2 separate regions of the Homo sapiens genome follow, and region 1 is reported to be linked to region 2. The links are microRNA targets in miRTarBase. Many come from high-throughput screens and were not tested one by one. Region 2 holds a microRNA gene; the other region holds the end of a gene's coding sequence.

The links. The annotated mature microRNA hsa-miR-5088-3p reads UCCCUUCUUCCUGGGCCCUCA and lies in region 2 at 1,290-1,310, opposite strand. An mRNA with a match to its seed (bases 2 to 7 or 8) in the 3' UTR can be bound and repressed. Matches are read on the target gene's strand: a 7mer-m8 pairs with bases 2 to 8, a 7mer-A1 pairs with bases 2 to 7 and ends in A, and an 8mer does both.
Region 1: the mRNA of KCNJ9 is a reported target of hsa-miR-5088-3p. Seed matches in the 3' UTR shown: 7mer-A1 at 916-922 and 7mer-A1 at 2,665-2,671.

What each region holds. Positions count from the first base shown.
Region 1 is chr1:160,087,074-160,091,455 of GRCh38, forward strand. KCNJ9 (potassium inwardly rectifying channel subfamily J member 9) reads left to right here. Exons shown (of 3, transcript NM_004983.3): 3 at 413-3,490. The coding sequence ends at 744. IGSF8 (immunoglobulin superfamily member 8) reads right to left here. Exons shown (of 7, transcript NM_052868.6): 7 at 4,270-4,382. Among named protein-coding and RNA genes, the nearest start is that of KCNJ9, 7.7 kb to the left of the region's middle.
Region 2 is chr19:49,679,122-49,683,483 of GRCh38, reverse strand. MIR5088 (microRNA 5088) reads right to left here and starts at 1,367; the gene lies at 1,289-1,367. PRMT1 (protein arginine methyltransferase 1) reads right to left here. Exons shown (of 11, transcript NM_001536.6): 2 at 3,559-3,612; 3 at 2,896-2,997; 4 at 1,419-1,574; 5 at 1,225-1,288. RefSeq lists silencers at 2,558-2,722, 2,569-2,938.

The DNA.
Region 1 (4,382 bases), not on the chromosome of region 2:
GGAGTGGGCCCTTTATGAAGTGGTGAGCTATCAATCCTGGGAGGTAATCAAGTATAAGCTAGATGCCCATTGTTAGAAATGCTCCTTTGGGGAGCCCTGTATGGAGTGAGAAGTTGGACTAGAGGATCCCTAAGGTTAGTTTCAAGGTTAAGCTTTTTTTGGTTGGCATCACCAAATGACAGGAGGGGAAAAAAGAGCTGGACATTAAGAGGAGTTGGGGCAAATGGAGAAGACACGAGGGAGCTGGGTAAGAACAGGAGCTAGGGAGGGGGGGAAATGGACTGGACCAAAGGGAGGTGGGAGCCCTTAGGAAGGAATAGAAGGGAGGGTGCTGGGAGTAGGGTTGTGGAATGAGAAGAGGAGAGGGAAGCCTGGAGCTGAGATTCCCCCTGACCGGTGCCCCTCCTCCCAGGAATGACATGCCAAGCTCGGAGCTCCTACCTGGTAGACGAGGTGCTGTGGGGCCACCGCTTCACGTCAGTGCTGACTCTGGAGGACGGCTTCTACGAAGTGGACTATGCCAGCTTTCACGAGACTTTTGAGGTGCCCACACCTTCGTGCAGTGCTCGAGAGCTGGCAGAGGCTGCCGCCCGCCTTGATGCCCATCTCTACTGGTCCATCCCCAGCCGGCTGGATGAGAAGGTGGAGGAGGAGGGGGCGGGGGAGGGGGCGGGTGGGGAAGCTGGGGCTGACAAGGAGCAGAATGGCTGCCTGCCACCCCCAGAGAGTGAGTCCAAGGTGTGACCAGCTTCCTCCAGACCCCTGTGGCAGACCGGGGGCCAGACACAGATACATGGGGAACTGCATATCGGAGGTGGTGGAGGAGGAGGAGGAGGAGGAAGGCAAAGCCCCTGGAAATGTGCTAAAGTTGGAAAGTCCCCGTCCCCCAGAACCTCAAGTCTAGAAACCAGTATGGAAGGGAGGGGTCCTGATTTCAGGGAAATGGAGGGTGGGGCCGGGTGAAAATGCCAGTCTGTGTTTGACCTTCACATTTGTTCATGAGTGGATGGATGGACAGAATGATGGACTTTTGGGGGTTGGATGGGAAGATGGTAGCAGATAAAGACAGCTGACAGATACATAGATGGACCAGTAGACAACTGGTCCACTCAGGGCTGCCACTAACCTGTAGAACACCCCTGTGCAAATTTTAAAAAGGAACCCTTTTCCTCCAGACAGATACAGCCCCAAACCAGGGTGCATGGCTTGGGGAGCAGAGTATAGGATGGATTGCAGTCCCCAGTCACCTCTTCTGCCAGCCTCCCCACATATGGCACAACTGTCTAATGACACGGTAGGCCAAGCTGAAGTGAAGGAGAAAGGAGCCGGACCAAGATGGGCACATGAGGAGGGTGCCCTCCTAGCTCCACCCTCACCAGGATGAAGGCGTGCAAGGGGCTCAGCAAGGTGTGAATGACCTTAGTCCGCAAGTTCAGGGAAGCAGGCAGAGCGGGGAGGTGCCTGAGCTGGGGCCTGGAGAGGGGCCTGGGAAAGGAAAACCAGGGATAGCTATTTTCTTACAGTGGAGTGAGATCTTACAGGTATCAGGCACAGGCAGGAAGAGAGAGAGAGAGGTTCTGGGGAGGAAGGGCCAGGAGAGAGATCTAGAAAGTGGGTTCACTAGAGCTGGGAAACAGGGAGCCCCTAGGAAAGCAGTGTGTCCTTGGGGCACAGTCATTCACATCACTGATTGGGTGCCATGTGGAGTGGACATTCAAAAACCTGGTTCCTGTCCTCAAAATAAGGGGCACCTGGGAAAACAGAGGAATCTACCTGTGGTGACTGAACGAGGGATAATTCAAACTGACAACCTGTGCAGTCCCGTGGAGGGTAGGGGAGTGTGGGTGATCAGAAGGCTGGGGCCAGTGTAAGGCATAGGGAATATGTAAGTCAGGAGTTAGAAATCTCCAGTGTGCGTTGGAATCACCTGGAGGGCTTGGTAAAACACAGATTTTTGGGCTCCACTCCAAGGGTTTCTGACCCAAGAGGTGGGGACCAAAACCATGCATTCCTAAGAAGTCCCCAGGTCATGCTGCTGTTGCTGGACTGAGGACCACACTTTGAGAACCTGTGCTCTAAGTGAATACTTGGAAGTCGTTTCAGGACATGGGGCATAGAAACTGAGGAGTAGCTGAGAGGAAGATGAAGAGAAGCTGAGAAGAAGCTGAGGATCCTCACAGGAGCAGACAGAGAAATGTGAAGGGTGGGGTTTTATGTGTGGGAAAGGGACCCGAAGCCCAGGCTGAAGAGTTTAACTTTGGGCCCAGAAACTCAACCATCAATGGAAACAGGGCAGTGACAAGTGGAGGGGGTGTCTGGAAGCTGAGCAGGCCCGACAGAGAGATGAAGCCATCAGAAGGACTTGAGGGGGCTCCTGGGGAGGTCGGGGGGAGGTGGAGCAGGAAGAGTTTTAGGGGCAAAGGACAGAACCCCTTGTAGGACTGGAGGCAAGATTGAATGTGGGAGAAAATCGGAGAGAAGCGATAGGAGTTAGAACATCTGGATGTGTCTGCAGCCTGCTGTCAGCCCAATTGGGCCAGGGGGTCCCAAAGACGCATATTCTCACCCCACCTCCACCTGCTTCCTGATCACATCCCAGTCACCAGCGGCAGCTTCCTGGATAGTGAGGGAGAACAACTGCAAGTTGAGAGAGGCAGAGGGGTGGAAGGGACCTGAAGCTGGCCTGGAGAAAAGCATAGGCCCAGGAGAGCCTGCCCTGGGACAGCGCCTGTCTCCCACACAGCAGCACTGGCCCAGCAAGGACCTCCTCCCTTGGCCCTGGCCACATCCCACTCCTGCCCTTTCATAAGCCCCCTGGGGAAAGCACTCCAGTCTTCTCTGTTCCAGGCTGGGCAGATAGGGTCCTATGGGGCACAGCCAGGGTCCTATGGGCATAGCCAGGGCCCTATGGGTCCTCTGGAAGCAAGAAAGGGGGCCATGGAAGCAGCCCAGACAGCTGGGGTTCACTCAGAGAGGACCCAAGTCCCAGTCCCTTCCTTTCAGTCAAAACACGGATATCTTTGCCTCAGGTCACAGGGCCACTGGGGCCCTGTCATCAAAGATGAGATTCCTGAAGCCTGGCATTGACTGGTCCCCTAAGAACAGATGTTGGGATGGAGAATGGGGATTCATTTGGGTTTCAGTAAAACAGGGGGGTCTGGACAAGAGCGGGTGGGCTACTTGGTATCCACACACACGCACTCACACAGGAGCCAACCCATTGCAGCTGAACAAGCAGAGAAACTCAGTCTGGAAAGGCCCCTCCTGCCTGCTGAAGTCACTGAGACCCTGCCACACCTCTCCTCGCCACTGTCACCACTCAGGGCACCACTGTACAGTGCAACAAGTCAGGAGACCTAGGTCCTACTCCTGACACTTGCTAATTAGCTCTATGACTCTGGGCAAATCGCATATCTGGGCCTCAGTTTCCTCATCTGTAAAAATGACAGCAAACTCGTAATGCTCAATAAATGTTTAAATAACAACTGAAGGAGGCCTGCCAGATGCCTCTTAAGGTGCCGTGCAGGTAAGAATTTTAGGATCAGAGAATCCTTAGGCAAGAAAATTCATGAAACTCCTGGGGCACTGGAGGAGGGGTGAAGCTGAAGGGTGGGAGGGAGGAGACCCCAGGGTAGGTACAGGCAGGTGAAGCGGGTATATGCAGGTGTAGTGGGTATATGCGGGTAGAGGGTATATGCAGGTACAGCGAGTACATGTGGGTGCAATGGCTCTGTGGACACACAGGCCCTCCCCTGACTGCCTGTTGTCCCAGCCTGAGTATCAGTTGTGTTCTGAGGCTTCTATTCTGCTGCTATGGGTCAGAAGGAACAACAATTTCAGCCCCAGGGCCTAGTGGGAGGAGTCAGGTCCAAGACTAGCCTGACCAGGAGAATGAGACGTGGGAAGAGTTGGGGAAAGTCTGGGAAGCTCAGAAAAGGCACTGCCCCTGGAGGCCCATGCCCTTTAACATGGGAGAAGCTGGTGCGGGGGTGACCACAGGCAGCTGGAACCTACCCTCCTTTTCTATGCTTCCCTCCCCAAGTAGGAGTCCAATCAGGAGTTGTCTCAGCCCCGACAGTTCAGGCTGCAGATGGAACCCAGGTGTCCCCTCCTGGGGTGGGTGGCATGGCCCATGGAGGCCAGATGGTGTTTGTGGTGGGAAGAGAGGCCTGGGTCATCCAGAATAGGTTGTCAATCCCCAACCACCTCCCTACTATGCACCCTGAGCGTTTTACAGTCTCATGGTAGGGAAGACACAGCCAAGCCTGCTTTTTATAAAACAAGTTTATTCACATTTTAGAAAAACTAATTCCAGGACAGGAAATGGCCTCCCTATAGGATCCCTAAGAGATCAAGAACAGAAGGCCAGAGGGAGGGGCTTG
Region 2 (4,362 bases):
ATCTCCTGACCTCACGATCCGCCCGCCTCGGCCTCCCAAAATGTTGGGATTACAGGCGTGAGCCACTGTGCCCGGCCGCGATTTTGTTTTTAACTGGGTGGTTTTGATATAATAAGTAACAGCATGATCACATTCTCAAAACAGCCTTTATCTATTAGATAAGACACAAGCAGACGCATTTACCGGGAAAATTACATCACAGTGGGAATTTGCTTCAAATGGACTCGTGCGTTCATTATAATAATCTCTTTTTAAAAATCACTTCAGGATGGCACGGTGGCTCACGCCTGTAATCTCAGCACTTTGGGAGGCCAAAGTGGATGGATCACCTGAGGTCAGGAGTTCAAGACCAGCCTGGCCAACATGGTGAAACCATGTCTCAACTAAAAAAATACAAAAAAAAAAAAAGTTCACACCTGTAATCCCAGCACTTTGGGAGGCCAAGGCAAGCAGGCAGATCACGAGGTCAGGAGATCGAGACCATCCTGGCTAACACGGTGAAACCCCGTCTCTACTAAAAAAACAAAAAAATTAGCCGGGCGTGGTGGCTGGCGCCTGTAATCCCAGCTAATTGGGAGGCTGAGGCAGGAGAATCACTTGAACCCAGGAGGCGGAGCTTGCAGTGAGCTGAGATCGTGCCACTGCCCTCCAGCCTGGCAAAAGAGTGAGACTCCATCTCAAAAAAAAAAAAAAAAAAAAAAAAATGCTGGGGATGTACCTATGATGGTGGTCATGCAAAAGAGCGGATGCCGCAACATCCTGGAAAGTGTTAAACGACATGACAAGCAGGTGTAAGAAGCCAAGGGCAAGAGGCTGGTATGAAATGCTACTGGCGTGAAAATTATGCACGAGAATGTAAATGCATTTACGTATGTATGTGTTTGTAGGTCCAGACTTCTCTGGAAGTTAGTGTTGGTTAAACTCAGAGGAGGGCAGCTGGGAAACAGGGAAGGCTTCTCACTGTGGGCCTTCCGTGGCCAACCACGTGACTCTATTACTCATTCAAGAAACTAGAGAGTGCTTCTTGCCCTAATTTTAAGACTGCGGTGCTAAGCCTGTGATTTTGACACTCAGATTCTCAGGCGGCCGGCAGCCCAAAAGACCATGGGTTGGGAGCTGCTGAATCTGTGGTCATCTGTAGACCCCACTGCTCTTCAGAGGGCCCTGGGGAAGCAGGGCATCACCCCCTCCACTCCCACAAACCCATCCTCTTTCTGGGCTCACCGTGGTCTAACTTGTTGGCTTTGACGATCTTCACCGCATAATCAGAGATACTGGAACACTCGATCTGAGGGCCCAGGAAGAAGGGAGGGTGAGACCCATCCCCTGCCCCCATCACCTCCATCCAATCCCTGAGCCCTGATGGGCTCCCCTCCATCCCTCAGGCCCGGCCCCGCCTGGCCACCCTGGAGACTCACCCCGATGACCTTGCGGGCCCCGGCCTTGGCAGCAAACATGCAGAGGATGCCGGTGCCCGAGCCGACGTCCAGCACCACCTTGTCCTTGAAGAGGTGCCGGTTATGAAACATGGAGTTGCGGTAAGTGAGGGTGCGCACCTCGTCCTTCAGCATCTCCTAGGGCAAGAATGGCACAGAGACGCCGTGAGGGGCCCCATATCCCCAGCTGGAGAACAGCGTGTCCTGAGAGCTCGGAGGGCCAGAGCTCGGCCCTCTCGCTTTCTTCCATGCACCTCAGTTTCCCTTTTATATTTATTCATTTATTTATTTTTATTTTATTTTATTTTTTGAGATGGAATCTCACTCTGTTGCCCAGGCTGGAGTGCAATGGTGCAATCTCAGCTCACTGCAACCTCCGCCTCCTGGGTTCAAGTGATTCTCCTGCCTCAGCCTCCCAAGTAGCTGAGATTATAGGTGCACACCACCATGCCCGGCTAATTTTTGTATTTTTCATACAGATGGGGTTTCACCATATTGCCCAGGTTGGTCTTCAACTCCTGACCTCAGGTGATCCACCCACCTCAGCCCCCTAAAGTGCTGGGATTACAGGCGTGAACCACTGCGCCCAGCCAGTTTCCCTTTTTAAAAAATCAGATTAGATGGTCTAAACTCCAATCTTGGCCGGACTTCACCACTGCTACCTAAGAACCAGTGAACCCTGGCTTTTAAAAGTCCTCAGGCTGGGAGCGGTGGCTCACGCCTGTAATCCCAGCACCTCAGGAGGCCAAAGCCGGAGGATCACTTGATCCCAAGAGTTTGAGACCAGCCTGGGCAACAAGGCAAGATTATCTCTACAGAAAAATAAGAACATCAGCTGGGCGTGGTGGCGCGCGCCTGTGGTCCCAGCTACTCCGAAAGTGGAAGTGGGGGGATCACCTGAGCCGGGGAGGTCGAGGCTGCAGTGAGCCATGATTGCACCAATGCACTCTAGCCTGGGCGACAGAGCGAGACCGTCTCTAAAAATAAAAAATGGCAATTTTATGCATATTTTGCCACAATTTTATGAAAAAGGCCTCAGGGGGAAAAGAAAATTCCTTAGAATGCCACCCCAGCTTCGTTCTGGGATTTCAGTGTCTTCAGTCAGATCTGAAGTGTGCAGAAGCTGTTAGGGCGGGAGCAGCCGGGGCGCAGTCCCACCGCCGGTCACTAGAGGGCGGCAGAGACCAGTGGGCCCTGCCCGACCTCTGGCTAAGGCCCCAGGCACGCATGCGCTCTCCCACCCCAGCCTTCGGCGCGAGGCCCCTGCAGAGATTCAGGCTAACCTCGGTCTCCAAGGCAACGGCTTGGCGAGGCGACCCTAGGAAGTGCGCAGCAGAGGGGCAGGGGGGCGGCCTGCGGCCAGGGGAAGCAGTGCGCATGCGTGGGAAAACAGGTTCCACCCCTTCCCCAACATTTAAGCCCCCCTAAGATTGGGGCCTTGGGGACTGTCCCCACTGACCTCGTGGATGCCAAAGTGTGCGTAGGAGTCAAAGTAGTAATCTTTGGATGTCATGTCCTCAGCGTTGGGCTTCTCACTGCTTTCCGCCTGGCCACAGGACACCTGGGAGGGGGCCGATGGGATCATGGGTCAGATCTGGGGGCTCCCCACAGCCTCTTAAACCTCCAGCGCCCTACTTTTCCCTGAAGAGTAGTATAGAACCCCCAAAATCATACCATGACAACCCTACAGCCCCCGCCTGCCATCTTGCCCCCCCAGGAACCCCAAAACCTAACAACCCCATTTTCCACTTCCAGGACCCCCCCAGAGCACCATCCAGGGGAGCACCCCGATACCTCAGCCACGCCTACCATCTCTCCAGTCTCTCTGACCCCGTCTCTAGCTCAGCCCACAGCTGGGGAGGGGAGGGGAAGGAAAATGGGGGCAGACACAGGGAAGGGCAAAGGGGGGTTGGAGGTGGAGTTAAGGAAGTAGCGGCGATACTGGGGGAGGCCAGCGGGGGCTGTGAACCTGGAGGGGTTGCTACTAAGTGTCTGGGGGCCTGGGGTAAACTGGTTTGAAGCAAGAGGGGTATGGTTAGACCTCAAGAAAGGGCCAGATGTGTGGCAAGATATATTGATGTGGAGGTCAGGGTGGGGAGGGGTCTCACAAAAGGATATTTACTTCTTCAAGAGGCGGCTGGAGGCTCATCCCATTAGCCAAGGTGGCTACAAAATTCTAGGAGAGAGTAACAGGGAAAAAGGATTAGCTACTGGGAGTGGCTGTGGGAGGGCTGGGTGGCGGAACCTGGGCTCTGGCCGGGGGGTGGGTTTCCAGCAATTCTCCTTCTTGGTGGGGAGTGGTGGCGAAGGGGGCAAGTAATGAGGTGGGGTGTTTAAGAAAGGGTGGGAAAAGTGAGGGGAGAAGAAAGGGGGGTCTCCTATCCCAGCTGTGGCTGGAGAGATGGTGGCCCACCCCCACGCTGCCCCTCTCTGGCCAGGCAGCTGACCACACACCTCCCCCATCCAGGCCAGGGGAATTGGCACCCACCACCGCCAGCTGTCGCTCCCTCTCATCACCTAATCTCCTCCAGATTAGGTGACACTTCCTGACACACACACCCCTATCCTAGGGTGCCATGAATAGCAGAAGGGAGCGGGGCTGGCAGGATATGCCCACAGGGCATCTGCCACCTCTGCAAACCAGTCTCATGTCTGAGAGGATTCCAGAATAGAGGTGTGGCACACGGGTACTTCCCCAGAGCTAGTACCCCAGACCCCAGCTCCTGCCTTGGACTCAGGAGCCCCAAACAAAACCAGCTGGAACCAACCCCCTCCCTTATGACCCTCTGCCCACGAAGGTAGGGTCCCAGGGAAGATGGGCAGCTCCTGGACCCTCTAAGAATGAGAGGACTCCAGAAAGTGGCTTGGGGGCACGGTGGCTCACACCTGCAATCCCGGCACTTTGGGAGGCCGAGGCAGGTGGGTC